3 separate regions of the Homo sapiens genome follow, and regions 1 and 2 are each linked to region 3. Evidence: fine-mapped expression QTL. A gene starts in region 3. Each other region holds a variant in brackets. All regions are shown on one strand. Distances are from middle to middle. Region 1 holds the start of LOC124903637 (a long non-coding RNA gene). Region 2 holds the start of LOC105371064 (a long non-coding RNA gene). Region 3 holds the start of PPL (periplakin).

The links.
Region 1: its variant is fine-mapped to the expression of PPL in testis (GTEx, PIP 0.97).
Region 2: its variant is fine-mapped to the expression of PPL in lung (TOPMed, PIP above 0.99).

What each region holds. Positions count from the first base shown.
Region 1 is chr16:4,891,048-4,901,625 of GRCh38, forward strand. PPL (periplakin) reads right to left here. Exons shown (of 22, transcript NM_002705.5): 5 at 9,917-10,042; 6 at 9,783-9,824; 7 at 8,176-8,337; 8 at 7,966-8,073; 9 at 6,628-6,723; 10 at 4,547-4,669; 11 at 4,214-4,360; 12 at 3,420-3,571; 13 at 2,494-2,591; 14 at 2,166-2,323; 15 at 988-1,166; 16 at 764-902. It overlaps LOC124903637 (a long non-coding RNA gene), which reads left to right and starts at 4,669. Exons shown (of 3, transcript XR_007064965.1): 1 at 4,669-5,533. RefSeq lists an enhancer at 4,211-5,056. The variant G/A (reference allele first, on the strand shown) is at 4,937.
Region 2 is chr16:4,906,325-4,916,902 of GRCh38, forward strand. It overlaps PPL (periplakin), which reads right to left. Exons shown (of 22, transcript NM_002705.5): 2 at 4,526-4,625. LOC124903637 (a long non-coding RNA gene) reads left to right here. Exons shown (of 3, transcript XR_007064965.1): 2 at 6,127-6,207; 3 at 8,037-8,124. It overlaps LOC105371064 (a long non-coding RNA gene), which reads left to right and starts at 8,739. Exons shown (of 4, transcript XR_933028.3): 1 at 8,739-9,467. The variant C/T (reference allele first, on the strand shown) is at 5,807.
Region 3 is chr16:4,931,522-4,942,099 of GRCh38, forward strand. PPL (periplakin) reads right to left here and starts at 5,627. Exons shown (of 22, transcript NM_002705.5): 1 at 5,463-5,627. The coding sequence starts at 5,524. RefSeq lists a silencer at 5,570-5,969.

The sequences.
Region 1 (10,578 bases), 40 kb before region 3:
GGAGCCTTGCTCTGTACATCCCAAACCTGGGTCACTTCTGCCATCTTCTGTTTTTTAACAATGAACAAAGCCCTGAAAAGCTAACTTCTAAAAACCCTGCAGCAGGCAGCTCGTGCCCTGCGCGAGAACAGCCTGCCACTGTCTGGTCATGAGGCTGTGGCAAAAGCAAGTCGTGAGATGGGAGTGTGAATAAGGGGCCTCAGGTCACAGACTTGAATGTTTCCTGTGCTCAGGCAGTGTGGGAAGGGGGCCCGTGGCAACTGCGAGGTAAGCAGGCCGAGAAGGCAGCTGCTCCTCTGCCCACTGACTTGCCCTCTGAGCTGCAGCCCAGGATGCCAGCTCTGCTCAGCAAGAGATACTGGGAACATGGATTGTTATGTGCTTTATGCTTTTTTTTTTTTTTTTTTTTTTTTAAGAGATAGGGTCTTGCAACGTTGTCCAGGCGGCTGGACTTAAACTCCAAGGCTCAAGCAATCCTGCCCCAGCCTCCTGAATGGCTGGTGTTACAGGCATGTGCCACTACACTGGCTATTGCAGATATTTGATCTTAAAATGCTGGCACCCGAAATCCCGTAAGTCACACAGATCCCGTGAATAGCTTGGATTTGTGCTGTGGGCCTCCATTTGCAGTTCCCAATTTGGGCATTCCAAACCTGGGGAGACTGGATGCTGGTGTCCTCATCTATCCAGACGGGCGGGTGGATGTGCCAGATGCTCTCACCTGCTCAGAGAAGGACTCCCAGGACTTGGGCCCTAGACTCACCGCCAGCTCCTGCCCCTTGCTGTCCAGGACACGGCTGCTCTCAGGCACTGTGTCATCCTGATTCAGATGGTTCTCGTGTGTGGCCAGCAACTCCCAGCTCTGCTGCAGGCTCTTCTCCAGGCGGTTGGCCACATCAACCCTGAGAGCACCAATCAGGCGTCGGGGGATGCCCACCTGGCCCCCTGACCCCACCCCAACCTCCATGCTGCCTGTCTGCCACCCACTTCTCCTGGGCCAAGTCCAGCAGCTGCAGGAGGTGCTCGTATTTCCGGTTGGTGTCCTCCACCCGGGTCCTCAGCAGGGGTGTGGTGCCACTGCCTGGGAGGGCCTGGATGAAGGCTTCGCCCTCAGCCGTGCTCCGCGTCTTCTCAGGTTCAATCCGCAGTAGCTCGTTGGTGATGTTCTGTGGGAACCAGGGCCCCTCAGTTTTGGACACAGCCAGGCAGCCCCTTCCCCTGAGGATGTGCCCAGGGTGAGCACAGATTCCCACATCAGGCACAGTGGAAGCAGCTGGAGAGGCCTGGCACATTCTGGGGCTCTGACCCGGCATCTGGACCCCAGCCTGAGGGCTGTATTTTTCACGAGCATCCCAGGGAACCGCTGAGGTGGAATGGACTAGTGACACCAGAAGCACCCAGGCAGCTGCCGGGCCTGTGCTGTCCTCAGCACTGCACGCGGACGCTTCTGTTTAATCTTTGCGGCAACCCCGGGAGGTGAGTACTACGACTCCACCCAGTCACGGGTGGGGGTGTGACGACTCCCAGCAGCTTAGGAAGGGACTTGTGGGGTCAGGCTACACCCGAGACCGGCATCCTCTCGCCCTGACTTGGCTCTCACTCTGAGGCCCCATCAGGGGCTATGGCACTTCTCCAATCCCAGATCCTCTTCTGTAAAATTGGAGTGCTACTCACTGCCTCAGAGGGCTGCCTTGAGGATGTGGGAGACTTTGTATAGGAAAGGAGGTGGGGGGAGGTGGCCCCTCCACGTCCCCCCTGGCATCAGCTCACCCTGTCCTCGCCACTGCCCTGTGAGCAGGGCCAACCCATCCTACTGAAGACACTGAGGCCTGGAGTTTATAAATACAAACGCTAACGTGTTTGCAGTCAAGCCAGCCGGTGACCCAGTCCTGCGGAATTCCACAGCCCATGTGCCATGCCAGGCGTCAGATCGACAAGCCGTGCAGGAACAATGCAAGTCCTGCCAGCTCTTTCTCCTGGGGAGGTAATGACAGCAGCCCTGCCACCTCCATGACTTGGGACCCTTTTACATGCAGCAGGCTGTCCCTGACAGACAGCTGCAGTGAATATCCCAAGACTCCATGGGGAAAAGACCTCAAATAGGGGCCCCAGGGGGCCAGTGCAGGGCTCCCCCGGCCCCACCTGTGCTCCTGACCCGCAGGTACCTTGAGGTCCTTGGCCCGCTCGGCACTGTCCTGCACAGCCCGGCCTTGCTCCAGTGGTGGCCGCAGGATCCCTGTGATGGCCTTCTCCTGCCGGTCCAGGTCGCTGGCCACCTTGTCCAAGCCAGCCAGCAGCTGCCGCCCCTGTAGGTCAGAGGCATCTGTGGAGGGAGGGAGGACACAGGCAGGTGTGACAACGGGCCAGGGGTGTGAGGCCCAGGGATGGACCTAGGCAGCCAGCCCCCCGCCGTCTCATCCACAGCACAGACCCTGGTCCAGCCCCTCCTCCCCGGTACCCCCAGAGCCTCAGGCGAGTGGCCCTGGCACCCACCTCCGGGATTCTCGGTCTTCAGCACCTCATACCGCTGCTGCAGCGTGCGTTTGCTCCCAGCTGCCTTCTGCCGCACGCTCCGGTACTGGCTGCCCAGGCTGTGAGGACAGAAATGAGCTGGGAACCTGGGCAGCCCACCACCCCCTGCACCCACAGAGGCGGGACTGCGGACTCTGGCTGGGCAGACACCCCAGAGGAGCCTGACAGCTCCTTAGATGCGGACAGCAAGTGCTCACTGTGGCACTGGCCTTTCTGTGCTCCTGGGCTCAGAGCTCTTCTCCCTCCTTCCCTCCTCTTTCGTAGGAAGTCTCACTACCTAAAATTGTCTGTCCAATAATCACCACCAAGATGTTACTTCTGAGGGAGCATACACAGTAGGTGCTCAATAAATACTTAATAAATGAAGGCATTCCTTGAATGATCCACTCATTCAGCAAGGAGTTCCTGGGCACCTACTTTGTACCAGGTACTTAACTAGGCCCTGGAGAGAGGAAATTCAAGGAGCCCAGGCCCAATGAGACTGACGCATACGCTAGTCACTTAATAAAAAGCGGTGCGTGCAGTGGAAGAAGGTGCCTGGGAGCAAAGAGGAGGCAGCCCTTATCCCAGCTGAGTCCTCCAGCCAAGGGGCTGGGGTCTGCAAGTACAGGGAGCAGTGCGTGCGGGAGTCAGGGGCCCTTAGAAACTGCTTAGAAACTCGTGAGGGGGCCAGGACGAAGCCCAGAGCTAGACATTCATGTTTAGCAAGTCAGCTGGCCCACAATCTGCCCCTCTCCTGCATGAACTTCCAAGGGGGTGCAGATGGAGAGTGTCAGCGACCCCGCGCTCCCCACAGGCTGAGTCCAAATCCCCGGGGCTATGAATGGGGCCTGAGAAGCCCTGGGGGTGGGACTGGTCCATGCAGACTCCCGCCTTTGCCCTTGTACCTGTCAGCCAGAGCCAGGGCCTCAGGGTCTGTGGGGGGGATCACAAAACACACGGCCGGAGCAATCAGCTTGTTCCCAGCGCTGTCCATGAGCTCCCAGCTCTCCCCGTTGTTCTTCTGCAGGGTGTAGCTGTAGCCCCGCGAGATCAGGCCCTGGCGGGGGCAGGCTGGACAGTCAGGATCCCGGCAGGGCCTGAGGGCCTGGGAGCCCGGTTGCCATCTCAGCCCCCGACTCTTGGACCTGGGGAGCCCCGGCTCATCACTTGGACCCTCCCCGTAGAGTGGGGAGGGGCATGCAGGAGAAGCACATGTGTTGAGGCTGCCGGCCCAGCAACCCACCTCCATTTCCCTTTGGGGAACCTTCCCTCCCAATTCCCAGTCCCTGTGGTCTCTCCTTCTCCATTCCCAAGCTCCAGATGGACATGTGACTTGGACCTGGCCAATGACTGGCATTCGCCAGCCACAGTCATTGGTATAGGGTGGACCCTGGCATTCCCTGGCCACAGTGATTGGTGTAGGATGGACACGTGACTCACAGTGAGCCAATGAGAACCTGGCCTGGGACTTCTGAGGAGGGACTGGGGTTGCTAAGCTGGTGGAACACAAGGCCAGGGCAGCCGAGGTGGGGGCGGCATAGGGGTGCCAGTTGGCCTGCACCAGGGGAAGGGTTGGCAGAGTGACACCAACCACGGAGACAGGCACAGGCTCCTGAGAACGGCGCCTGAGGCCCGGGATCCAACCATGTTACCCCAAAAACTTTGTAGTGATGTGAACAGAGGAGCTGGCCCCACGCACCTGCTCCCCCTCAAAGTCACAGAGTGCCTCCACGGGGATGGGCTTGAGCGGAGTCTCCCGGCGGTACTTGAGGGGCACCACCTGCTGGCCTCGCTTCTGCAGCCCCTGCACCACGTCCTCATACTTGTCCAGCACCTTCTCCTGGTCCTGGAGAGAACGGGGTCAGGGGCCCAGGTGAGACCAACAGCCTTCCCCCTGGTGGGAGGACGCAGAGCAGGGGCTGGATTCAGCAGGTGGGGTGCTGTGGAGGGGCCTGTACAGGGCTGAGGGCAGGCATGGTGTAGAGGGGTCCCCCGCCCCCCGGGCCAGCAGGGGTCCTGGGCCATCGCTCACATCCAGCTCCCGCAGCAGCAGCTCAATCTGGTACCGGTCCTTGAAGTCAGGGCCATACTTCTGGTTCAGGTCCGAGTCCACCTTGCGCAGCAGCTCCTGAGCGTCCTTCACGTCTTCGTGAAACTAGGGGAGAAGGTGGCTCTGTTACAGCCAGGAAACCACTAGAAGCACCTGGGCTTCTGTCGGAGGCTTCAAGCTCATCCCTCAGGCGGGGCTGGGCCTCCGGTTCACCTGGAGTCCAGCATGGGACCCTGTGCTGAGCCTGAGGCTCCTCTGCGTGGAGACAGCCCCACCCTCCCTGAGCTGGCTCCTTAGGGGCCTCACTGGGAAAAGCCAGGTCCCTTCCCACCCATCCATGAGATGCCACCTCTGTGACATGTTTTCTTGGAT[G/A]TATCAGTAAGTCTTGAGGTGTCTTTGATTCAGTTCCTCTCTCTGTACTAGGAACATCCAGACTTAATACTATAGCTTCTTTCTAGGTTTTGATAATAGCCTCCCCTTTTTGTTCTCGAAAATTCTCTTGCCCATTCTTCAGTCTATCAACTCTTGGTTCACTGTCAGCTATCCCCTGGGCTGAGCACCTGGGCTGCAGCCATAAACAGGACCTGAAGCCCCCACTGTGCGGCTCAGACAGGGAATGAGGAGTGACACGGCGTCGCCCACATCCAGCTTTCCCCAGACACCTCAATCCTAAGAATTACCCGCAGCTTCTTAAGAACTCTCATTCCTCTGGAAACAGACAAGTGTCCAGCCACAGATGAGTGGATAAACACAGTGGTCTAGCCATACAATAGGATATGATTCAGCCATAAAAAGGGGTGAAGCACTGAAAATGCTACAACACGGATGAACCCGGAAAACATGATGCTCAGTGAGAGAAGCCAGACACAAAAGGGCAGAGATTGCATGATCCCACTGATTCTTCATATTCGTTCTAGGTGTGACACTTCTGGAACAGGCAAGTCCATAGAGACAGCAAGAAGACCAAAGGTGACCTGGGGCTGGGGGAGTGGGAATGGAAAACTTACTGCCTAATGAGTACGGGGTTGTTTTTTTTTTTTTTTTTTGAGGCGGAGACTCACTCTGTCGCCCAGGCTGGAGTGCAATGGCGCGATCTCAGCTCACTGCAACCTCTGCCTCCTGGGTTCAAGCAGTTCTCCTGCCTCAGCCTCCCATCTGGGACTACAGATATGGGCCACCACACCTGGCTAACTTTTGTATTTTAGTAGAGATGGGGTTTCATCATGTTGGCCAGGCTGGTCTTGAACTCCTGACCTCAGGTGATCCAGTCGCCTCGGCTTCCCAGAGTGCTGGAATTACAGACATGAGCTACCGTGCCCAGCCAGGGTATAGGGTTTCTGTTTGGGGTGATGGAAAGTTTTGCAAGTAGATGGTGGTGATGGTTGCATAACATTGCGAATGCAATGAATGCCACTGAATTGTACACTTAAAAATGCAAACTGGCCGGGTGTGGTGGCTCACACCTGTAATCCCAACACTTTAGGAGGCCGAGGCGGGAGGATCACCTGAGGTCAGGAGTTCGAGACCAGCCTGACCAACATGGCGAAACCCCATCTTTACTGAAAATACAAAAATTAGCTGGGTGTGGTGGTGGGCACTTGTAATCCCAGCTGTTCAGGAGGCTGAGGCAGGAGAATCACTTGAACCCAGGAGGTGGAGGTTGTAGTGAGCCGAGATGGCACGACTGCACTCCAGCCTGGGTGACAGGGCAAGACTCTCTCAAAAAAAAAAAAAAAAAAAAAAAAGGCAAATTTTGTTTTATGTATCTGCATGTATATTATAGATTTTACCAAAATTAAAACCCTACACACTCACCCTGGGCCCCATGTGACCTGGGGAATCAGACTCTGGCCCTGGTCCCCAGGGAAGTTGGACAGGGGCCGGCAAGCTTGGGACATGTCTGCACACGCCATCAGAAGCATGGGTGCTGGGGGCCTGGGATGGCTGCCCCGCAAGGCTCCTGGACCAAGGAGCACGAGGCCACACATGAGCCAGGTAGGCACTGAGCGCTCTCAGAGAGTAGCACCCCCGGTGCTGGGGGGACTCCCAGGAAAGGTAAGTACCTGGTGGTAGTCCTCCATGTACTTGAGGTGGCTCTCCTCGCAGATGAGCAGGTTCAGGTACTCCTTCCAGTCTGCGTGCACAGCCTCCATGTGCGCCTGCCAGGAAGAGAAGGGGCCGGTCACCACTGGGCAGGTACTGCAGACACCAAGGGAGGGACTGCTGGGATATTGGGCTGGGGCATGGCGGGGGAGGGAGGCATCTGGCATCTGTCTGGGTGTGGCTACCACAGGGGTAGCCAGCTTCTGCTCAGGAGTGGGAGGAGGAGAGAGGGGTCACGTCAAGGAGCCAAACAGGGATGCCACATACGGATGCCCAGGCTGTGCAGTGCACAAAGGGCAAGTGGGGGCTGTGGTGCCTTCGGCAAATCTGTACAAAGGCACTGTCATGGACCGAACAGTGTCCCACCAAATCCATGACCCTGGCCAGGCATGGTGGCTCACACCTGTAATCGCAGCACTTTGGGAGGCCGAGGCGGGTGGATCACCTGAGGTCAGGAGTTTGAGACTAGCCTGGCCCACATGATGAGACCCTGTCTCTACTAAAAATACAAAAATTAGCTGGGCATGATGGTGTGCGCCTGTAGTCCCAGCTACTTGGGAGGCTGAGGCAGGAGAATTGCTTGAACCCGGGAGGTGGAGGTTGCAGTGAGCCAAGATTACACCATCGCACTCCAGCCTGGGCAACAACAGCGAAACTCCATCTCAGGCGGGGTTGGTGGCATTGTGGGGGTTGGGAAGAATGCGACCTTATTTGGGAATAAGATCTTTGCAGATGTCATTAGTTAAGGATCCTGAAATTAGGGTGAGCCCTAAATCCACTGACTGATATCCTTATAAGAAGAGAGGATACAGAGAGACATGGGGAGAGAAGGCCATGTGAAGACGGAGGAAGGGACTGGAATGATGCAGCCACAAGCCAAGGGCTGTTGGCAACCCCCAGAAGCCGGAAGAGCAAGGAAGGCACATGTCCTGGAGCTTCCAGAGGGAATGAGGCCCTAAGACACCTTGATTTCAGACTTACAGCCCACAGACCTCTGAGAGAATGAATTTCTGTTGTTTAAAGCCACTAAGTTTGTTTTAACTTGTTGCAGCAACTCTAGGAAACTAATACAGACCCCACAGGGGCTTCAGAAGTCCAGGGGCTGAGGGCAGAAGTGTCAACGGATCAGGATAAATGGAGGAGGCAGAGTCAGACACAGCAAGAAAGAGACAGACAGACACAAGATGCAGCTTGCAGGACCCCCAGCTCCGGGGTCTGCCCGAGCTCCAGGCGGCCCACAGGCAGCGGCCAACCAGAAGCCACCCTGGGGGAGGTGTCTGGTCTCGGGGTGCATGAACCTCAATGGAGTTCCTCCCGGGGTGCTCGGCCGCCAGCAGCTGGTCGCCCTCGCTGTGCAGTTTGTTGATTCTCTCCTCTTTGGCCTCCAGGTTCCGGTTGATGAAATTCTGCAGTGGGGGGCAGTGGAGGGGCCTCAGTGCCCAGCCTGGCGGTCCCGTGCTCCTTCCAGGGCTGCCTCCTCCCTGATGCCCCAGGCCCCCAGAACCCACCTCATACTGGCGCCGGCGGCTGGGGTAGTCGAGGTTGCGGTCACTCCAGTCGTACTGCATGCGGCCCTTGGCCTGCTGGTCCAGCCAGTACAGCTCATTGGTGCAGCGCTGCATGTAGTCCTGCAGCGAACTCAGGTGCTGCTGCCGGGCCTGTGATGCTGCCTGAAGGGGCCGGGGCAAGGAAAGGGCTGCGTCCTCAGCCCGCTGCCACTGCTCGCTTCCTTCCCTACCTCCTGCAGGGCCCAGCTATGGCTGGCCTGAGGACAAGCCCAGCTATGGGTGGCCTGAGGACAAGCCCAGCTTAGCCACGTCCAGGCCAGTCCCCCTTAGACAAGTCACCTGAACCCCTGAAACTCATTCATTCATTCATTCATTCATTCAGTAAATGTTTACTGAGCATCTACTACATGCTGGACATGGCTCCAGACACTGGGGATACAGCAAACGAAACACACAAAACCCTTACGGAACTGACATTTTTGTGAAGGCTTAGTTCGCCCATCTGTAAATGGGGAAGATGACAGTCCTGACCTCACAGCGTACAGAGACTGGCATATAGTTGGTGCTCAACAAATATCAGTAACTATAGCTTCTACTTTTATCTGTATCATGATCGTCTTATAGAGGGCTGGAAGGAAAGCACCACTGTACGTCTGAGAAGCGGGTGTGCAAGGGAAAGGAGGGATGTTTGCATTTTGGTACGTGGGGCCCTCCACGCCTGATGAACTTCTGCAACATTGACTCATTTCATCCTCAAAGCGACCCTATGAGACAGGAACATGTAGGAGCTCCATTTCTCAGATGAGGAAACTGAGGCTCCCGGAGGCTAAGTAACTCGCTCAAGGTGTCACCACTAACACTAAGGAGCAGAGGAAGCATGGCTCCTTATAGCGACACAATGCTGCCTCTGTATTCTCTGTCTGAAACATTGGCAACAAGGAAGCGTTTGCATAACACTTATGCAATTTTTAAAAGAATGCATTCTTTAAAGGTTTGGGAAGGAAAATGGAAAGCTTTTGTATAGAAAGCAAGTGGCATCATACTTGGCACACAGCAGATAATAAAGAAATGAGCAGGACAGGCTGTACCCCTGGGGCCTGTTAGGGTTTTCCCTGAACAACCAGGGCAGACCTTGCAGCCGCTCAGGAAAAGGCTGGGGCACCTCTCTTCCCGCCTCAACCCCTCTCCTGATTGAAACGTTTACTGCACGCCTTTTTTTTTTTTTTTTTTTTTTAAAGGCAGGGTTTTGCTCTGTTTCCCAGGCTGGAGTGGAGTGGCACGATCACAGCTCATTGCAGCCTCCACCTCCTGGGCTCAAGCGATCCTCCCACTTCAGCCTCCCAAGTAGCTGGGACCACAGGCATGCCACCAAGCCCAGCTAATTTTTAAATGTTTTGTAGAGCTGGAGTCTCACTATGTTGCCCAGGTTGGTCTCAAACTCGTGGGCTCAAGTGATCCTCCTGCCTCTGCCTCCCAAAGTGCTAGGCGTGAGCCACCATGCCCAGCTGCCTATGTCATTTTTAAAACAATACATCCTTGTCCCCCCGACTCCAAGCTTCCCATCCTCTCCTCTCCCCATGAGGCCTTTCCCCCAGGGAGCTCCTCACCAGCAGTTTCTGGTACTTGGCCCGGAGTTCGCTGTTCTGCTCCTGAGGACAGAGCCGAGGGCATGGGTCAGGGCCAGGAAGCAGGCGCGGCCCCCTCCATCCCTGGGTCCCCACCACACCAGCACACGCCCCACCTTGTCCCCGTCCTTGGCCAGGTGGGGCCCGATGGCCTTGACCTCATTGTGGAAGATGTTATGCTCCTCCACTTGGTGGTCCACCAGCGGCAGGTCAGTCCCAAAGCTCTGGTTGTTCAGCTTGTCCTGGCCAGGAGGGCAGAGAAGCAATAAGGAGAGGGTGGGCTGAGGGCTGGGGACGTGTGGCCACCCCAGGAGCCTCGGGGGTGGGCATGATGGTGCTCTCTTTTTCACGGGGCCCTGCAGAGCCACAAGGAGATGCTGGCCACACCTTCAACCCTGAGGTTCTGTTTGCTGAGCACTGACCTATATCATCTTTCATCTCACAGAGCCTCAGGGGTCCACATGGTTACTGTCCCATCTCTCAGATGAGGACACAGAGGCTGAGGCTGAATGAGGGCCAGTCACCTGCCCAGGGTCACGCCAGTAACATTGGGAAAGCTGGCCAGGCATGGTGACTGATGCCTGTCATCCAGGCACTTTGGGAGGCCAATGGGGTCGGATCGCTTGAGCCCAGGAGTTTGAGACCAGCCTGGCCAATGTAGCAAAGCCCCATCTCTACAAAAATACAAAAAATTAGCCAGGTGTGGTGGCATGCACCTGTAATCCCAGCTACTTGAGAGGCTGAGGTGGGAGGATCACCTAAGCCTGGGAAGTTGAGG
Region 2 (10,578 bases), 25 kb before region 3:
CACCATTATCCTGCCTCAGCCTCCCAAGTAACTGGGACTGCAGGCGCCCACCACCATGCCTGGATAATTTTTTTGTATTTTTAGTAGAGACGGGGTTTCACCGTGTTAGCCAGGATGGTCTCGATCTCCTGACCTCGTGATCCACCCGCCTCGGCCTCCCAAAGTTCTGGGATTACAGGCGTGAGCCACCGCGCCCGGCCTGCTTGGAGTAGAATTTTATTCACTCCATTATCACCAGCTTCCCTGAGCTGCAGATCAAAGATTAATTTTGCAAAAGGAGGAAGTCCATTAATCATTGCCTAATTCGTGAAGGTGCCCGGTGGGAATGCAAGTTCTCTCAAAACACTGGCTGAGAGAGAAAGAGAACATCTAGCTGAGGGAGGCTAGTGTTCGAAAGTTCAAAGTCGGGCAGAACTGATCGATGGTGAGAGAGATCAGCATAGGGTTGACCCCTGAGGGATATCAACTAGGGAGATGGCCCGGGAGCTTTCTAGACAGTTACCCATCTTGCCACAGACAGTGGTTATCTGGGTACCTATTGATGCAAAAATTCACCCAGGTGAAGTCTGCGAATGTAGACACTTCTCTAGAGTTTATATAAGTTATACCTTGATAAAAAAGTTTTTTAAAGTCACAGGGGCCAGGTGCAGTGGCTCACGCCTATAATCCCAGCACTCTGCGAGGCCCAGGCGGGAGGATTGCTTGAGCTCAGGAGTTGGAGACCAGCCCGGGCAATATAGTGAGACCCTATCTCTAAAAAAAAAAAAAAAAAAAAAAAAATACAAAAATGAGCCAGGCATAGTAGCATGCGCCTGTAGTCCCAGCTACTTGGGAGGTTGAGGTGGGAGGATTGCTTGAGCCCAGGAGGTTGAGGCTTCAGTGAGTCGTGATTGCGCCACTGCACTCCAGCCTGGGTGACAGAGCAAGACCCTGTCTCAATAAAAAATAAAAATAAAAAATTATAGGGACTGATATATCTAATCTCACACACACACACACACACACACACACACACACACACACACACACACGGACAGATACATGATAAAGCCAATTCAGCAGACGTTCCTTGTAGGATCAGGTGGTGGGATATGGGTGTTCGCTGTACGGTTTTCTGCATGTTTAGCATTTGAATAAATGTGTGATGCAGTGTATGATTCTGTTTATGTGAAATATCCAGAATAAATAAATCCACAGAGAGAAAGCAGATTAGTTGCTGCCAGGGGGAAAGGGGAGGTGGGGAGTAACTGTTAAGGGTGTGGGGTTTGGCTCTGGGGTAAGGGAAATGTTTGGGAACTAGATCGAGGAGATGGTTGTGTAACATTGTGAATGTATGAAATGCCACTGACTTGTACACATTACATGGTTAATTTTATGTTATGTGAATCTCCCCTCAATTAAAAAAAATGGAAAATTCAACAGAACTGGGAAATGAAATAAATAGTAGTATCTTTAGCAAAAAGAACATAAGAAAAAGATTGTGTGATCCATGTAGTCTTCAAAGCCTAGCTTCTTTTTTCAAGTGGGTTCAGTTGAAGTTAAAAAAATAGGCCGGGTGCAGTGGCTCACACCTGTAATCCCAGCACTTTGGGAGGCCGAGGTGGGCAGATCACAAGGTCAGGAGTTTGAGACCAGCCTGGCCAATGTGATGAAACCCCATCTCTACTGAAAATAAATAAATAAATAAATTAGCTGGGCGTGGTGGTGCCTGCCTGTGGTCCCAGCTACTTGGGAGGCTGAGGCAGAAGAATCACTTGAACCCGGGAGGTGGAGGTTGCAGTGAGCCGAGATAGCACCACTGCACTCCAGCCTGGACAACAGAGTGAGAGACTGTCTCCAAAAAAAAAAAAAAAAAAAGAAAGAAAGAAAGAAAAAATTGTTCAGGCCAAGCACACAGTGGCTCATGCCTGTAAATCCCAGCACTTTGGGAAGCTGAGGCAGGAGGATGGCTTGAGGCCAGGAGTTCAAGACCAGCCTGGACAACATAGCAAGGACCTCTGTCTCTGCAAAAAAATAAAATAAAAATGGTTCAAAATTACCTATTTTGAGTCAATACTTCAGGGAAATAAAATGAGAAGGTTAAACCCTCTTCCTTCTTTCTCTCTCTCTCTCTCTCTCTCTCACACACATACACAAAGGTCAAACAGATATACACCAATATGTTAATAGTCAGTAGATACCTCTGGTGGTGGAATTCTACATGACTGACTTTATTGATTGATTGATTGATTGAGGCAGGGTGTCCCTCTGCTGCCCAGGCTGGAGTGCAGTGGTGTCATCTCTGCTCACTGCAGCCTCAACCTTCCGGGCTTAAGCGAGCCTCCCACCTCAGCCTCCCAAGGAGCTGGGATTACAGGCACACACACCACCACACCTGGCAAATTTTTCATATTTTTTGTAGAGACGAGGTTTCACCATGTTGCTCAGGCTTGTCTGAAACTCCTGGGCTCAGGTGATCTGCCTGCCTAGGCCTCCCAAAGTGCTGAGATTACAGGCGCGAGCCACCGCACCCGGCTCATGATTTTAATTCACTTTGTTATGCTTGTTTATCCATCGTGAAATGTGTGTGATGAACACATATTATTTTTGTTATGAGGAAAAAAGAGACACACCCCCAAAAGATGTTTTCCATTTAAGAAGGAAAGAAATCCACCACCACAGGGGGCCTCAGATGGCAGAGGATGTAACTGCAAATGACAAGGGGAGCTGATGGGAGGGAACAGGTGTGGGGTGGCCAGGCAGAGGCCAGGGAGGCAGGAGGTGGAGGCCCAGGGGGGCATGGAGGCGGGGGCCCCAGGCAGGAGGCCAGGGCAAGGCCCACTCCTGGGGCCCCTGCAGGGGATAGCTGGTGGCAGAGAACAGAGTCTCCACTTATCTGCCCCCTACACCCCCGTGGACTGTGCCCACCCCAGCCCACCTACCCGCTTGGGTCTCTTGGCTGCTGTGGACAGGCCTTCAGAGGGTGGGCAACTGGGCCATCAGGAGCAGCCAAGGGGGTTGGATACCTATGGCTGGGCCTGGGGACAGCAGCTTGGCCGGGTAGACCTTGACCTCCCTCCTGACCTCCCCACCCTCAGCCTCCCACTCCTCTGGTCCCACCTTTTTTTTTTTTTTTTTTTTTTGAGACAGTCTTACTCTGTTGCCCAGGCTGGAGCGCAGTGGCACGATCTTGGCTCACTGCAACCTCCGCCTCCCGGGTTCAAGCGATTCTCCTGCCTCAGCCTCCTGAGTAGCTGGGATTATAGGTGTGCACCACCACGCCCAGCTAATTGTTGTATTTTTAGTAGAGATGAGGTTTCACCACATTGGCCAGTCTGGTCTCAAACTCCCGACCTCAAGTGATCTACCCACCTCGGCCTCCCAAAGTACTGGGATTACGGCCGTGTGAGCCATTACGCACCTGGCCTGGTCCCACTTCTTAGTCGCCCCTGCATAGGGATGCCAGATGAAATACAGATCACCACTTACACTTGATTTTCAGATAAACAATAAATAATGTTTTAGCATAAGCCTTTCCCTAATAACACATGGGCTTTCCTGCTACTAAAACATGATTTGTGTTCTGAAATTCAAATGTAACTGGGCATCTCATATTTTATTTGCTAAATCTGGTAACTCCACCTGCAGGCCGATGCTGGCACCATCTCTGTCACTGACTCATCATCCCAGCCCCTTCTAAACCTCAGTTGCTCCAGGGTACAAAACAGGCATCAACCCAATCGCACCGGGCTGGCGCTGGTGGAAGGTTTAAAGAGAAGGTGACCATTCCAGCGGCTCGTGAGTCCCTCAGGGTACAGAGGCTTCATGCCGTTGAGTCCACTGGGCAGTTGTTATCCCCATGTTACAGAAAGGGAAACTGAGGCACAGATAGGGGAAAGTGATTTGCCCAGCTATTTTATCTCTCTTCTCCAAAAAAGGTGGAGAAAGACCTGCACCCTGAGTGCTGGCAGCAGTAGGATGAGCAGTGAGAATGATATTGACGATAATAGCCCTGTCCTATACCTGCATAATCTCATTTAATCTTTACAACCACCCCGCCAAATGGGAACCATCACTCCTGCCTGCTTAGAGAGAATCTCGTTCATGGGGAGGTGGGATGGCTCACTTGTCCAAGGTCACCCAGCAAGGACAAGGCTGGGCTGTTTCCATAGAGCCTGACCCCATGGCACTCCTCCAGGCAGGAGACGCTTTCCACAGGGCCCAGGAAGAGGGAGGAACTTAGTATCCGGGAGGTACTAGTATTAACGACAATGGCCAGGTTCCTCTCACAGAGCAGGGCTTCCTGACCTTGGCACCCCTGCCCTACAGTGCACGGTAGGGTGTTCAGCAGCATCCCTGTCTCCCCTCCCCAACTGGACGCCAGGAGGACCTTCCTTCCAAGCAGTGACAACCAAAATGTCTCTGCATGTTCCCTCGGGGCCACAATCACCCCTGGGTGAGAATCACCGATTCCAAACAGATCCTGGTCCTGAACAGGGCTGGCAGCACGGGGCACCCAGGTGGGAGTGGGAGTGGGGGCACTCACACTCTGCATCTTGGCCTCTGTGTCCACGATGTTCTTCTCCACCTGGTCGGCATTCTTCTGCAGCTGCTCGATCAGCTCCGAGAGCTCCTTGTTAGAGATGCTGCGGGCAGAAGCCGAGGGGAGATGGGCGGGGTGCCTGGTGGGTGGGGGCTATGTCCCCACCAGCACCCCATCCTCTGGCTGGCCCCGGCCCCACGCTCTGAGCAGGAGCTGCCCACAGAGCCTTTGAGGTAGTTGGGCTGTTCCCATAGGGCAACATCACTAAAGCCACAGAGACAAGGCAGCGCCTGGCAGGCGGTCAGCCTCCTTTTTTTTTTTTTTTTTTTTTTTGAGATGGAGTCTTGCTCTGTCACCCAGGCTAAAGTGCAGTGGCGTGATCTCAGCTTACTGCAACCTCCACTTCCTGGGTTCAAATGATTCTCATGCCTCAGCCTCCCCAGTAGCTGAGATTACAAGCATGCACCACCAAGCCTGGCTAATTTTTGTATTTTTAGTGGAGATGGGGTTCCACCATGTTGGCCAGGCTGGTCTTGAACTCCTGACCTCAAGTGATCCACCTATCTTGGCCTCCCAAAGTGCTGGGATTACAGGCGTGAGCCACCGCGCCCGCCCAGCCTCCACTTTGATCATTCTCTCTAATGCTTCTATTTTTTATTTTTATTCATTCATTCGTTCATTCATTCATTCATTCATTCATTTTATTGAGACGGAGTCTCACACTCTTGCCCAGGCTGGGGTGTAGCGGCACAGTCATGGCTCACTGCAGCCTCTATCTCCCAGGCTCAAGCAATCCTCCTAGCCCAGCCTCCCAAGTAGCTGGGACTACAGGCACATGCCACCACTCCTGCATAACTTTTACATTTCTTTTGGTAGAGAAGGGGTTTCACCATGTCACCCAGGCTGGTCTCGAACTCCTGAGCTCAAGCAATTCGTCCACCTTGGACTCCCAAAGTGCTGGGATTACAGATGTCAGCCACCAGGCCCCGACTACATATTTTTTTGTGAGAGATAGGGTCTCACTCTGTCACCCAGACTGGAGTGCAGTGGCGTGATCATAGTTCACTATAGCCTCGAACTCCTGAGCTCAAGCAATCCTCCTACCTCCACCTCCTGAGTAGCTGGGACCACTGGCACCACCAGCACACCCAGCTTCTAATGCTTCTATTTTGCCATGTTGGCAAAACGCACCATATTTGAAAAATTGGGAGATAACTCACATACCGTAAAATTCACCTGTTTAAAATACACAGTCACTGGCTTTTAGTACTACACATTCAGAAT[C/T]GTGCAACCATCACCACTATCTCATTCCAGACATTTTTATCACCCCAAAGCTCCACACCCACAAGCTGTCACTCCCTATTCCCCACCCGCTCCAGCCCCTGGCAACCAGGAATTTACTTTTTCTCTCTATGGATTTGCCTATTCTGGACATTTCATATAAATAGAATCACACAACACGTGGCCTTTTGCGTCTGCCTTCTCTCAGCATAATGTTTTCAAGCTTTGTGCATATTGCAGCATCTATTAGAACTTCATTCTTTTTATGGCTGAATAATATTCCATCACGTGGCTACTTCACATTTTGCTTATTCATTCAACAGCTGACAACCATCTGGGCCGTTTCCACCTTTGGGCCATCGTGAGAATCACGCTGCTATGAACGTTCGGGAACAAGCTTTTGTGTGAGCAGTCTTATTTTTAATTACCTGATATTTTTCTTTCAACCTACTCGTTTTATTTTAGAGTTAAATGTGTTTACAAAGGTAACTTCTCTCCCCATTTTAATCAGAAATCAGAAGCCCTCACCATGAGTGAATTAGCTGCCAAAATAAATTTCATGGGAACGCAGTGGCACTGGGTTCCGTGGTGACACTGGGCTGCCCGCTGTTACAAGTCAGGAGGTGTGACAGCCGTGGTGGCGTCAGGCCCAGCCTTTCTCCTGATCTTCTCAGAGCGCCTGAAAGAGACTTGAGGCCCGGTGTGGTGGCTCATACCTGTAATCCCAGCACTTTGGGAGGCCAAGGCGGGCGAATCACCTGAGATCAGGAGTTTGAGACCAGCCTGGCCAACATGGTGAAACCCCATCTCTACTAAAAATACAAAAATTAGCTAGGTGTGGTGGCATGCGCCTGTAGTCCCAGCTACTCGGGAGGCTGAGGCAGGAGAACTGCTTGAACCTGGGAGGTGGAGGTGGCAGTGAGCTGAGATTGCACCACTGCACTCCAGCCTGGGTAACAGAGCGAGACTCCATCTCGAAAAAAAAAAACAAGAAAAGAAAAAAAAGTCTTGAAAGCAGACTGGCCCTCTCCCTCACTGTCTCTGTGTCCCCTCCTGTCACATTTGTCTACTGCCCCCCGTCCCCCAGAACCACAGACAGACCACTCTGGAAAATGCTCTAATGGGAGTTAGTTAAGACTTTGGCCCTGGGGTTAGCTGTGGGTTCAGATCTTGGCTCCCATCAGCCACTTAGTGGCTGTGTGACTTGGCCCAGCTCCCTTGCCTATCTGTGCCTCTGTCTCCCAATCCGATGGACTAGAGTAACAGTCCTTTCCCGGGGCCAGGGTGGCAGGGGTTATGAATGGAAGTGAGGTTACACTACCAAAGGACTGTGCATAGAGCCGGGCACAGAATAAGTCTGAACAAAGGTTTGTGATTTTAGTTGTCAAGGAGCCTTAGAGATCACCCAGCTCTGCCTCTGTGGTTTTGAGACCGAGTCTCACTCTGTCACCCAGGCTGGAAGTGCAGTGGTATCATCTTGGCTCGCTGCAACCTCCACTTCTTGGGGTCAAGTGATTCGGCTGCCTCAGCCTTTTGAGTAGCTGGGATTACAGGTGTGAGCCACCATGCCCAGCCTCCTTCTGTTGTTTTCTTTAAACAAAGAAAGAAAGGGAAACCAACTTGGCCATTGTCACCCAGTTAGCCAGCGATGATAGCTCCCCTGTCTCCACTGAAGACCCACAGTGGGGCCTGAGTGGCTAGGCACGCAGAAGTTGCCTTCTACTCACACTCATTAAGCACCTGCTGTGTGCGGGCCCTGCACCTCACAAAGACAAGCCTCTCCCTCCCTGATCCACCCCACAGACCAGGAGGAAATCAGTATTTATAGAAACAGTCACGAGACTGAGGCAGGCCTGGAGGCTGGGGATGCCCAGGGGAACCTCTGGACTGGCTGGGTGGGGACAGCGGTGGTCACTGAAGGCTTCCTGGAGGAGGTGGTGTCGGCTGGGTGCTAAAGCAAAAGGAAGAATTTGGTGTTCCTGTGCAGAAGGCTCCAATGAGGACACGCCATAGAGAGAGGCAGGTCCTGGCACGTCCCGTGGGGTGGGCCAGGGCGGGGTTCTTGACCGTCAAGGCAGAGGGGACCACCAGCCCTTTCGAGTGATGCTCCCCAGATCAAGGTTCTGGGGCCTAGCATGAAAAATTCAGATTCCCGGCCACTAACCCAGACCTGCTGAACCCAGGTCTCCAGAGCTGGGCCCAGGAAGCTGTATTATTATTACTATTTTTGCAGGTTCCCCAGGGTACCTGGACACCTACCGGAGTCATGGACCAGCAATGCAGGTGCTGTTGATGTTGGGGGCATTGGGGGCAGAAATGGCAGCAGCCAACATGCTGGGGATCCATCCGTCTAGGTTCCACACCTTGCTTAAGGGCCAGCTTTGTGGCAGACCTGGATACACCGGAGCTGGGGGATCTTGAGGGAACAGGACCCAAGCCATACCTTCTGCAAGGTCAACTGGGGGCAGCCTGTCCCAAAGTGGGGTCCCAGGAACCCAACTCTTACAAGTCTTATTCTTCCTTGGTCAAGGCACTTAGGAAAACCCCATCCTTGATATGTTCATGAGCCAGCAAAGGCACTGACAAGTCCTGCAGTGGAGAAAGCCAGTGTTTGGCGGGGTGGCCAGGAAGGCTTAGCAGTGGGGGGCTTTGGATGGAGGATCTCGGTAAGAAGGGATAAGGTGGGCTTCTAGAACAGCCAGGTCAGGGGTCCACCCGACTCCTCCCTCATTCCCTAACCCCCCACTTCCTGGTTGGGCAGGCCACATGGAGAATGTGAGTTTCTGGGCCCCCACACTCCCACCCCAGTCACTGACCATCTGCCAGGCCAGCTGCACCTAGAGGCGGTGAGTCTCACCCCAAATATTTAACCCCTGACTCTGCAGTGCATCGTTAGGGTCTGTACTGTGGCTCAAGTGGGGGCCTTTGTCTCTCTTGGGCCCAGTCCCACCTCAGGCACAGGGCCAGCTCCCAAACCAGCCCTTTCATGGATTGTGGCAGATGCAAGAAAAGCCACCTTCTGGACTCTATCCTGGCTGGGCCTGTTGTTCCAGCCGAAGCCCCCCAGAGGACATGGGAGTTGTGGGGCAATGACCACTGCCTCAGGGACCTTGGACTCCTGATGGGACAAAGCTGTGAGCGGTAGCAGGAAGCTATGAGCAGACAGGCCAGGCCCAAGGCCCACTGGGCTGCTTGCTGCTTAGACAGCCTCAGGCAAGTGCCCTACCCTCGTACAGCCTCCGCTTCTCCATCTGTCCTCTGGCGATGACCACAAAGGCATCCTGGGCATTTGCCACTTGCTGTGGGCTTTGCCAGACCTCAGACATATTCACAGGCACCAGCTCAATATCATCCTTGCCCTAAGTCCCCGGGGAGGTTGGTGTGCCCCTTTGAAGAAGGGGATGAAGAAACCAAGACTCTGAGACATCAAAGCACTTGCTCAGGGTCACACAGCTGGTGAACCGCGATTCTCCCCGCAAGCAATCTCACTCCAGAGGCATGTGATCGACTGGGCTAGAAGTTACTCATGGGGATGCTAGGAAAATCACACCAATAACAATCTCCACCATCGTAATATGAGCTAATACTTACTCTCTACGTGCCAGGCTCCTCACTGTTTCTGACTCAATCTTCATGACAACCCTGAGAGCTGGGTGTTAGCATGGTAGGTAATTGTATTATTATCCCCGTTTATGGGTGTGGAAACTGAGGATCAGAGAGGTTAAATAACTCTCCCAAAGTCACCCAGCAATTAGATGGCAGAGCCAGGACTCTAGGCCCTTAACAATTCCATGTGACGATCTTACAGGGCTCCCAGCACACAGTAGGTACTTCACAGATTAATTTAAAATGCCAAGAGCCCAAAACCACACCGGGATGCCACTTTTCATCCACTACAATGGCTATAATAAAAAAGACAATAACAAGTGTTGGCAAAAATGTGGAGAAATTGGAACCCTCGTGCCTTGCTAGTGGGGATGCAAAATGGTGTACAGTTGTGGAAAACAGTCTAGAAATTCCACAAAAAGTTAAGCAGTCACCATAAGACCCAGCAAGTCCACCCCTACGTATTTTTTTTATTTTTATTACTTATTTATTTTTTTGAGACAGGGTCTCACCCTGTTGCCCAGGCTGGAGTGCACTGGCATGATCTCGGCTCACTCAGCCTCCGCTTCCCAGACTCAAATGATTCTCCTACCTCAGCCTCCCGAGTAGCTAGGATTACAGGTGTGTGCCACCACACCCGGCTAACTTTTGTACTTTTAGTAGAGACGGGGTTTTGCCATGTTGGCCAGGCTGGTCTCGAACTCCTGACCTCAGGTGATGCACTTGCCTTGGCCTCCCAAAGTGCTGGGATTACAGGTGTGAGCCATTGCGCCCAGCCTTATTATTTTTTGAGACAGGGTCTCACTCTGTTGCCCAGGCTGGACTGCAGTGGTGCAATCTTAGCTCACTGCAGCCTTGACCTCCCAGTCTCAAGCAATCTTTGTACCTCAGCCTCCGAGTAACTGCGACTACAGGCGCCTGGCACCGTGCCCAGCTAATTTTTTTTTTTTTTCAGAGAGGGAGGTTTCGCCATGTTGCCCCAGCTGGTCTTGAACCCCTGGGCTCAAGCAATCTATCTGCCTCGGCCTCCCAAAATATTAGGATTACAGGCGTGAGCCACTGCACCCAGCCCACCCCTACATATCTATCCAAGAGAAATGAAAACCTATGTCTGGGCTGGATGCGGTGACTCACGCCTGCAATCCCAGCACTTTGGGAGGCCGAGGCAG
Region 3 (10,578 bases):
GAGAACAAAGACCAGAGGCCGTTTCCCCATTCGCTCCCAAGACAGGCCGGGGCAGGCAGGCTGGGAGGATGCAAGGTGGTGCCGGTAACACCGGCACAGACCTGCCGGGAGCAGAGAGCAGCTGCACGCTGGGAAGCCAGGGTTCTCTTCCCCAGACGAGGAGCTTTGGAAGCTCTCTAAAGCAGCTTCTCCCCCAGGTCCCCTACTTCCAGGGCCTCCCCCAACCACACCCTTAGGGTATTGCTTAAAGGGTGTGGACGGAGCTGAGTCTCTCCCCCAAAATACCCTTTCCCAACATGATCCGCCCGACAGTGCCTGAAATGCTACCATTAGCAGCTGTTCCTCCAGGTAAGCTCAGCTCTGTCCTGAATCGAATTTATCCAGTCTCATTCCTTCTTCCAAGAGAACTGGGCAAGGGATGGAGGGGCAAAGCTAGAGAGAAGAGAGGTAGAGGGGGTTGCTGGGGGTAGAGGCAGTGAGCACAAACACCAATGACTCTACCATTTGGCCTGGAGCAGTCCCCAGGCACAGTTGCTGCCAGATCCAGGTACGAGTGGGGAGGCCTCATTTGCTTCCCCAGGCCCCCCTGGACTTCCAGCATCAGCCATTTGTGAGCTGTGAGCTCAAGGTGAATGTGAGCCCTCTGTGAAACAGGACACTTCCACCTGCATGGCAGGCCCGCTGTCAGAATGAGATGTAACATCCATGGCCTTGCTGGGCTCACAGTATGTGCCTGAGAAATGGCGGGGCGGCTCTCTCTAAGCTGTTACCCACATGGGTCCCCTCCCATATCGATCAGGCGTTCCTACCAACACTGATCGATGGGTGCATGTGCGTGTCTGCTTGAGTCAGCTCCCTGGTCAGCTCTGGGCTTGGCTCAGTCATGAATCTTTTTTTTTTTTTTTTGAGACGGAGTCTCGCTCTGTCTCCCAGGCTGGAGTGCAGTGGTGTGATCTCGGCTCACTGCAATCTCTGCCTCCCAGGTTCAAGTGATTCTCCTGCCTCAGCCTCCCCAGTATCTGGCTGGGATTACAGGTTTCCGCCACCACACCCAGCTAATTTTTAATATTTATTTTTGTAGAGATGGGATTTCACCATGTTGGCCAGGCTGGTCTTGAACTCCTGACCTCAAGTGATCCGTCCGCCTTACCCTCTCAGAGTGCTGGGATTACAGGCGTGAGCTACCGCGCCCAGCCCGTCATGACTCTTAATAGCAGTGTGTGCTTCCTAGTATTGGCTGCTATGATTTGCCGGGCACTCGCTCTGAACCAGGTCATGGGCTGGACCCATCATGTGCATCCCCTCATTTGATCTACCCAGCAGCCTCACCAACTGGGGGTTGCTGTTGTCACCCCACCTCATAGATGAAGAAACTGAGGCTCGGAGACATTAAGTGACTTGCCCAAGATCAAACAGCTTAAGAGACCCAGAGCTGCGGCCTGAACTCATGCCCAGCTAGCATCAAACACTGTGTTCTTGCTTTTTTTTTTTTCTTTTTGAGACAGAGTCTCACTCTTTTACCCAGGCTGGAGTGCAGTAGCACAATCTCAGCTCACTGCAACCTCTGCCTCCCAGGTTCAAGGGATTCTCCTGCTTCAGCCTCCTGAGTAGCTGGGACTACAGGCACCCACCCCCATGCCCAGCTAATAAAACACTGTGTTCTTAACCACTAAGAGGCTCAGGGTACCCCAGGTGCCTCCCAGTAGAGCATGCTTCCCTTTTGCCAGCTCTCCCCTCAAAGCCTGGGGTCCTGCCTCCCATGCAGGAGCGCTCCATCAGGGCGGCCCCAGTGTTGCAAGACCCGTCTAGGCAAGGCCAGGCTGCTGGGTGTTTACTGGGACCCAGGTCTGGGTGGAGGGGCAAGATTAATCCCATTCAACAAATTCAGAAGCGCTGGGGCTCAGGGATGCTATGTTTCTTTTCAAGCAGAGGCAGAATTGAGCCTGACTGCAGAGCTGGGTCTTGGCCACTCCATCCCACCCCGTGACAGGTCAGATGCCTCCTCTGTGAAGTCCTCCCTCACCTCCCAGCATCTGTGCTCTGACTGTGACAACTCTCACTTGAGGCCTGTCACAAAGTATGTGAGTGGCCAGGGTGGAGACCTCATCTGTCCGGCTCTATGCTCCATTGCTCCTGCCTGGCCCCATCAGTCCGACGCTCATGTAACCATACATGTACTGAAGCTTAACTCCATCTTATCTCTGTGATGTGACTGCCAGCGACTCAAGTGCAGGGAGGTTGTCCACGTCTCCTCCACGACCACGTGCTAAAACCCAGCAACAGTGCCTATGGAATTGTGCAGTGCACAGCCTGTCCACCATGATATCAAGTTTAACCCTGGGTACACCACAGCTAGCTTGCCCGCATTTGCTTAATAACTGTAATCGTCACAGATGCTATTACCTGCGGCCGCTTATCATTCACAACCTTTCCCCTGCATTATTTCATTTAATCCTGAGCCAACATCGCCAGGCAGGCACCGTGCTTATTCCCATCCCACAGGTGAGAAAACAGGCTCAGAGAAGCCAAGCAGCTCCTCTGAGGTCGCACAGCCAGGAGGGTGGCAGCGGGTCTCCTCCAGGGCCTCTCTACTAGGCTGGAGGCTGTCCTCGGTCACCTGCACCATCTGGCCTGACTCTGTCATTAGCTCAGGTGTGAACATCAACTCCCACACCTGTCATTAGGAACCCGGGCAACGGGAGCAACGGGGTTCACACCCTGTCCCGGCCCTCCCCAGCTTCAGCTGCTAAAAGGCAGACAAACTGGAAGGGGTGGCTTTCTCGGTGGGGTGTTCCGTTCACTAATCCACACTTTGTAGTCCAAAGGCCTGACTACCTTGGGTATGAAAGTCACCACTTGGGGCTCCTGGGTCCCCTGGGCTCGGAAAGGGCTGCTACCCTCATCCGGGCACCTCCTGTGTGCTACAGCACTGCTCCTCCCAGCAGCCCTATGCATGAGACACTCAGTATTACCACCCGTGCTGTGCAGAAAGGGAAAACAAGGCTTCGAGAGGCTCCAGGGTGGAGATGCCAGGATCAACAGTGAGGCATTCTGCTCTCAGTGCTGGAGCTCCTACTGCCCCCCATGCTGAATCTCACCAGCAATTTTGTCCTCCCCCAGACAATGGAGCGGGCCCCTGGAAAACTCAGAGTGAAGGAATAACTTGGGGATCCACTCCCTGTGACCAGCGACCACAGCCTAGAGCCGCAAGTCTGTCCCCTCCACCCCCCCACCAAGACACTTGCTATGGGGCTGGCTGGGCATCAGGCAATGTTCAAGAGATGCGTTTGAGAGGATGGGGTACAGGGCTACCCCCACCCCACAATCCAGTCTGCGAACTAGTCCCCACTAAGGGGAGGGGGCAGAGGGATGCACTGGGCTTGGAGACCACCCGGGGAGGCATCTGACATCTGCTCAGGGCTGTGGCTGTGCTCATTCTGTGCTGGGGTGGCAAGGCTCAAAGGAATGGTCTTGCACCCCAGGCTGGGGAGAGAATCAGGAGGGCTTCCTGGAGAAAGAGACGTCTAAATGGAGATCTGGGACCAATGGCTATCAGCCTAGGACAGACCGTGGCTGCCTTGGGCCAGATATACAGAGAGTGGCAGGACCCCAAATCTTTGCCACCCCAGACCCTCCCAGTCCCTGCAGCTATAAAGGATGGGATGCCTTTCATCCTCATGCTTCTGGGAAAGCCCGCACCCCTCCCAGCTTGTCTGGGTTCATTAGAACCTTTTGTTAGGTCCAAGCTGGGGCCTTCAGGATGGAGAGCTGCACGAAGGAGGGAGGCTGGGAGGAGGCAGAGGGCGGGGCGAGGCCTGGCCCCACCACTGGTATGTGGGTGTCTGCATGTGTGAAGGACTGGATGGGTCTAGTCTCTGGGGTGGAGAGGACAGAACGGTTCTCCACGGCTGGCACGGAGCATCCAATTGTGCAATGCCCCAGGGAACAGTGCAGGGACTGGACGGGCCTCTGGTTGGGTCTGAGTGCCAGCTGGACGCAGCCATGGAGGAGGGGTGTGCAGGCCCTGCCCAGTCTCTGGGGTTGTGAAAGATAGGGGAGGGGTGGGGAAATCTCTAAAGGCGGGTAATGCCTCTGAGCTTGAAAGAGCCCAAACGGAGATACGGGTGGGTGGGATCACAGGGCAGGGGGGTTTCTGAAAGGGCTGGAAGGCCCCGGAATGGAGTGTCGCACTCCAGCGTGCTAGGGCCCCGCCGCCTGCACCTGTCCGACTGGTCGGCCTAGGCCGGACTGCAGGGGTTGAGTGGGAGCCCTGGGCCCAGAGGCCTCTCCTTGCCTAGGGAAGAAGTGAGGAGCTGCTTGAGGGCACAGTGGGGGCTCCCAGTGAGAGCAGCTTGGGGGCAGAACTCCCAGACAGGAGAGCCATGTAATGTGCGGGCCCCTCACCTGCCTGAAGCCTCTTGTCCGAGAAGCTGGCAAAATGGTCCTTGCTAGCCCAGAGCCCCCACTCTATTTTCCGAAGTGGGGATATAAGGCAGGGGCTGGATTCCCACCCCCTCCGTCAATCTCAGCATCTCCACCAGGCTCCCCTAAACCGGTTATTAAGTGAACACATTAGGCTTATCAAAAGGGACGTGGGCTGCTTCTCCCTGCAAACACATCAAGACATGCCATTCCCCTCCCAGGCCGCCCTGGGAACCCGCGGCTCAGAGACGCCGCCAGTTTCGGGGCTGGGGTGGGGGCAGGGAGCCACACCCCTGCGAAACCGAGCTTCGAAGAGGAGGCCCCGAAGCCGCCCAACCTCCGCTCAGAACCCAGAGGGTGGGGAGGTAAGGGGGTGCCTCCCCCTGTGCCCCTCGACCCGACCCCACACCCCCCAGGGCCTCCGGGCGCGGCTCTGGCGCGCAGGGTGGCAGGTGCCGGGAAGTGCAGCGGCGGGTGGCCCGCCCCCTCCGGACACCCATCCCTCGCCTCCCCGACGCCAGGAACACTTGCGCGGTCTCAGAGGCGCTGGAGAGCGCCCCCCGACGCCAGCTCAGTTTCCCTGCCTCAGGGCGCCCCCTGGACGGAGCTTCCTGGGTCGCCCGCAGCGACCCCGCCTTGAGTGCCCGGTCCTCCAAAAACTCCGCCCCCTCATCCAGGTGACTATTCCCGGTCCTGTGCGACCCTCTGCGCAAGAGCGACCCTGGGACACGGGGGTGCCCTGTACCCCCAGCTCAGCTGCCCGTGCCCTAGGCCCTCAAGGCAATGCTCCCTGGGCTCCCGGAGTCCCCTGTGTTATGCTCCCCCTCGGGGACCCCAGCCAGTCCCTTCCCACCTGGCGGCGCTTCCCAGCTTCAGGGTGGCCTCGGTCCCGCGTTCCCGAGAGTCCCGCACTCCGGGTTCAGTTCCCGGTTCCTGGACCCCCGTACCCCCCATTCCTACACTGCCCGGGAGGTCTTCCAGGTCCTGTGCGCCCACAGGGGCAAGAGCGTCCCGGAGCGGAGCTGTGGGCGCCTCCTCACCTCCGGGTCTGCACAGTGGGGCTGTATTTGCCTTTGTTTCTCTTCCTGAAGAGCGAGTTCATGGTGGCGCTCGGGGTGCGGGCGGCGGCGGCTGGCGGGCCGGGCGCGCACCGAGGGGCGGGCGGGAGCGCAGGTGAGCGAGCGGCGGCGCGGGGAGCCCGGACTGCGGCGCGGCAGTGGCTCCGGGTCCCTACTCGCTGGGGGCGGGGCGCCCGCCGGCCACTGGCTCTGCGGGCCGCTCCCCGAGAAGGTGGTGCTTACCTTCCCGAGGAGGGGCCACCGCGCGGGCGGGGCTTGGACGCGGGGGTGGGGACACTGGGTCTTGGCCGGACGCCGCCCACCCCCAGCCGGGGGACTCCGGAGGCCGGGCAGGCACTGGGGCGCAAAGGCCGCCGGGGCGAGCGCTCGCAGCCCCACCCTCCTCGGGCCCGGCGCGCCTCTGGCCGAGGCCTTCACCTGGTTCTGCGCTACCGCGGAACTCGGCGCTCCTGGTGCTTTGGCGGACACCCAGCTGGGCCCCGCAAGACAGGTGCGGCAGAGACCCGCACGGATTCATGTGCCCTAGTAGCTAGCGAATTGCACTCAGATGGTGGCAATTGAGGGAAGGGGGCTGAACTGCCGAGGGCGCCGGCCTGAGTTCAAGCCCTGCCACCCCCAGGTTGGCTGACACTCCTGGGCAAGGTGTTTTACTGCTCCCAGCCACAGTTTACTTCTTTGTCAAACGGTGATAACCACCACCCCATCCGAAAGGCCTGTGGGGATGTCCCTGCAGGTAATGCACGCAAAGCGCTGAGCGCAGTGCCCTGGCCTGAATCTGCTCTCCGCTTGCCATCTCGGGTGGACAAAAACTCCTTTGAAACTTCAATAACTCCAGGCCCTGGCACTAGAAGAGCGCTTCATAGCTGGTCATAAAAGCTGCTCGATTGCGGCTCAGAACAACGACGTTGCACAATTCTGCCAGCATGTCCTGGCCCAGACTGTGTGCCAGTGGAGGAGGCTGCCCTTAGACAGAAACCTAATCTGACCTGAAGCCCGGATGGCACACACCACCACACCTGGCTAATTTTTAAAAATTTTTGTAGAGGCAGAGTTTCACCATGTTGCCCAGGCTGGTCTTGAACTCCTGTGCTCAAGTGATCTGCCGGCCTACAGCCTCCCAAAGTGCTGGGATTACAGATATTAGCCACCGTGCCCAGCCAACCTTATTCTTAATGGGGCTTCTATGGGTGGGCTTAACCCATTTATGCCTGAGGTTGCAATTTTTTGAATTGATAAATCATACCTTGGCAGTGACCTTGAGCAGTAGGAGATAACTCCCACAGGCGTCACGTTCCAATAATGGACCACTAGGCGTAAATAGAGGTGTGATTCCTCCTAAAGTTGTGCCTGCCTGCCTGCCTTCCTTCTTTCCTTCCTCTCTCTTTCCTTTCTTGCTTTCTTGCTTTCTTTCTTCTTTCTTCTTTGAGACTCAGTTGCCCAGGCTGGAGTGCATTGGCACAATCATAGCTCACTGCAGCCTTGACTTTTGGGGCTCAAGCAATCCTCCCACCTCAGCTTCCCGAGTAGCTGGATCCACAGGTGTCCACCACCACGCCTGGCTAATTTTTAAAACCTTTATATTTATATATGTTTTTTGTAGAGATGGGGTCTCGCTGTGTTGCCCAAGCTGGTCTTGAATTCCTGGGCTCAAGCAGTCCTCCCACCTTGGCCTCCCAAAGTGCTGGGATTTCAGGTGTGAGCCACTGCACCCAGCCCTAAAGTTGCTTTCAAAATGTGTGTGTCCAAATGTGCATTTTTCTGGGGGAGGATGTATTGCTCAGTGGAGTCATTTACTCATTCAACACATGTTTCCCATCACTCTCACAGCCTCAGTGTGCCTGGCTCTGCTTGTTGTACACGGATGAGAAAAGGGAAAAGAACAACACAAAAGGGGCTTTCTCTTTGGGAGCTTTCAGGTCCCGGGGCAGGGGACACATATTAAAAATGTTAACTTGGATGGGCGCGGTGGCTCACTCCTGTAATCCCAGTACTTTGAGAGGTCGAGGCAGGGGGATCACCTGAGGTCAGGAGTTCAAGACCAGCCTGACCAACATGGTGAAACCCCGTCTCTCCTAAAAATAAAAAATTAGCTGGGCGTGGTGGCGCCTGCCTGTAGTCCCAGCTACTTGGGAAGCTGAGGCAGGAGAATCTCTTGAAACTGGGAAGGGGAGGTTGCAGTGAGCTCATATCACGCCACTGCACTCCAGCCTGGGAGGTCACAGTGAGCTGAGATCGTGCCACTGCACTCCAGCCTGGGCGACAGAGTGAGACTTCGTCAAAAAACAAAAACAAAAACAAAAACACGTTAACTTTTCTTTTTCTTTCTTTTTTTTTGGAGATAGGGTCTTGCTGTGTTGCTCCGGCTGGAGTGCAGTGGCGTGATCATGGCTCACTGCAGCCTTCCTTGACCTCCCAGACGGAAGCCGTTGTCTCTTCTCAGCCTCCCTCTCAAGTAGCTGGGACCACAGGTGTGCACCACCATGCCTGGCTAATTTTTTTTAAATTAATTAATTATTATTTTTTTTTTGACAGTCTGGCTCTTGTCGCCCAGGCTGGAGTGCAATGACACACTCTCGGCTCACTGCAACCTCTGCCTCCTGGATTCAAGCAACTCTCCTGCTGCCACCACGCCCTGCTAATTTTTGTATTTTTAGTAGAGACAGAGTTTTGCCATGTTGGCCAAGCTGGTCTTGAACTCCTGACCTTGTGATCTGCCTGCCTCAGCCTCCCAAAGTGCTGGGATTACAGCTGTGAGCCACTGTGCCTGGCCTTTTTAAATTTTTTTAATTAATTAATTAATTATTTAATTTTTTTTGAGACAGAGTCTTGCTCTGTCGCCCAGGATGGAGTGCAGTGGCATGATCTCGGCTCACTGCAAGCTCCGCTTCCTGGGTTCATGCCATTATCCTGCCTCAGCCTCCCAAGTAGCTGGGACTACAGGCGCCCGCCACAACGCCTGGCTAATTTTTTGTATTTTTTAGGAGAGACGGGGTTTCACCATGTTAGCCAGGATGGTCTTGATCTCCTGAACTTGTGATCCACCCACCTCGGCCTCCCAAAGTGCTAGGATTACAGGCGTGAGCCACCACGCCCGGCCTTTAATTTATTTTTTTTAGAAGGAGTCTCACTCTACCACCGGGCTGGAGTGCAGTGGTGCAATCTCGGCTCACTGCAACCTCCGACTCCCTGGTTCAAGGGATTCTCCTGCCTCAGCCTCCCGAGTAGCTGAGATCACAGGCACGTGCCACCATGGCCAACTAAATTTTGTATTTTTAGTAGAGACGGCTCAAACTCTTGACCTCAGATGACCTGCCTGCCTTGGTCTCCCAAAGTTCTGGGATTACAGGTGTGAGTCACTGCACCCGGCCGCCTGGCTAATTTTTAAAATTCTTTGTAGAGATGGGCTCTTACTATGTTGCCCAGGGTGGTCTTGAACTCCTACAGGCTCAAGCAATCCACCTGCGTCAGCCTCCCAAAGTGCTGGGATTGCAGGCGTCAGTCCCTGCGCCGGCCAAATTGTGAACTCCTTGAAGGGGTCTGGGGACATATGGGGGAGAAAGACCCTGGGAGAGGCGGTGGTTCTAACATTGTTGCACCTTAGAATCTCTACAGGAGTTTGTAAAAGGCATATTCTGGGGCCCTGGGACCCTTGACATCCTGATTGGGGGGGTCTGAAGAGGGAGGGGCCTAAGAATCTGAAATCTGGACAAGCTTCCCTGGGTGGTCTGAGGCCTCAGTGTGTGCAGCCTCCCAGCTGCTCAGGCAGACAGCCCTGAACAGACCTCCCCAGCAAACCCAGTCCTTCCCCAACTCGGCTCTGCCTGGCTCAGTTTCGGGTGCCGCCCCCAGGTGGGCATTTCTCATTGGCAGGTAAGGGCATGACAATGCCCTCCCTCGTCCAAAAGTGACTTCCTTGCCTAGATCTCAGGGCCCCGAAGGGATGCTTCCTCCAGCCAGCTGATATTGGGAGCAGGTGTTAGAGAGGAGCTGGGGTTTCAGAACACAGGTGTGCGGGGAGTCACCTTGCACCCGCAGAAGCCTGAACTCAACATGGAGCTGGCTCAGCACACAGACCCCTTCCCCATACCCCAAGAGGGGTTCCCAGGGAACTTGTGCGTCCTTGCTGTCGCCCCCTGGTCTGCCTATGCCTGGACACCCTCTCCTTTCTCGTTCCCCATACCTTTCCCCACAGGTGGGCTCTTACTCCGGGCTCAGCATGCCTTGAGGATGGTCACTGCAGCAGTGTTGCTGACCTTGTACTAAGTGTGCATCCTGGGATGCTTTTGGCAACACAGTTGCTAATGGAGAAGCTCTGTAAAGAAACTGCTGCCTATTTGGAGGGGGATGGTCCGGTAACCAGGGCTGCCTACACCAGGAAGACCCTGCAGCTGGAAAAGGGGCAGATGTGGAGACCATATGTAGACTAACATGGAGTGGAGTGCCAGATGCAAAGTGCAAAAGAAAGAGGGAAAGACAGAGTGTGTGGTGTGTAACATGCTTGTCTATGCACAAAAAACTTCTGGAAGGATACATGAGAAACCGTTGCTGAATCTCCCCAAAAAGGACAAGAAAGAAGTTTGAATTTCTTTTCTTTTTGAGATGGAGTTTCACTCTCGTTGCTCAGGCTGGAGTGCAGTGGCGCGATCTTGGCTCACTGCAACCTTCGCCTCCCAGCCATTCTCCTACCTCAGCCCCCCAAGTAGCTGGGATTACAGGTGTGTGCCACCACGCCCAGCTAATTTTGTATTTTTAGTAGAGATGGGGTTTCACCATGTTGGTCAGGCTGGTTTTGAACTCCTGACCTCAAGTGATCCACCGCCTTGGCCTCCCAAAGTGTGGGGATTACAGGCGTGAGCCACTGCGCCTGGCCATTTTTTTTTTTTTTTTTTTTGAGATGGATGGAGTCTTGCTCTGTCACCCAGGCTAGAGTGCAGTGGCGCGAACTCGCCTCACTGCAACCTCTACCTCCTGGAGTCAAGTGATTCTCCTGCCTCTGCCTCCCAAGTAGCTGGGACCGCAGGTGCATGAAACCACACCCGGCTAATTTTTGTATTTTTTATAGAGACGTGGTTTCGCC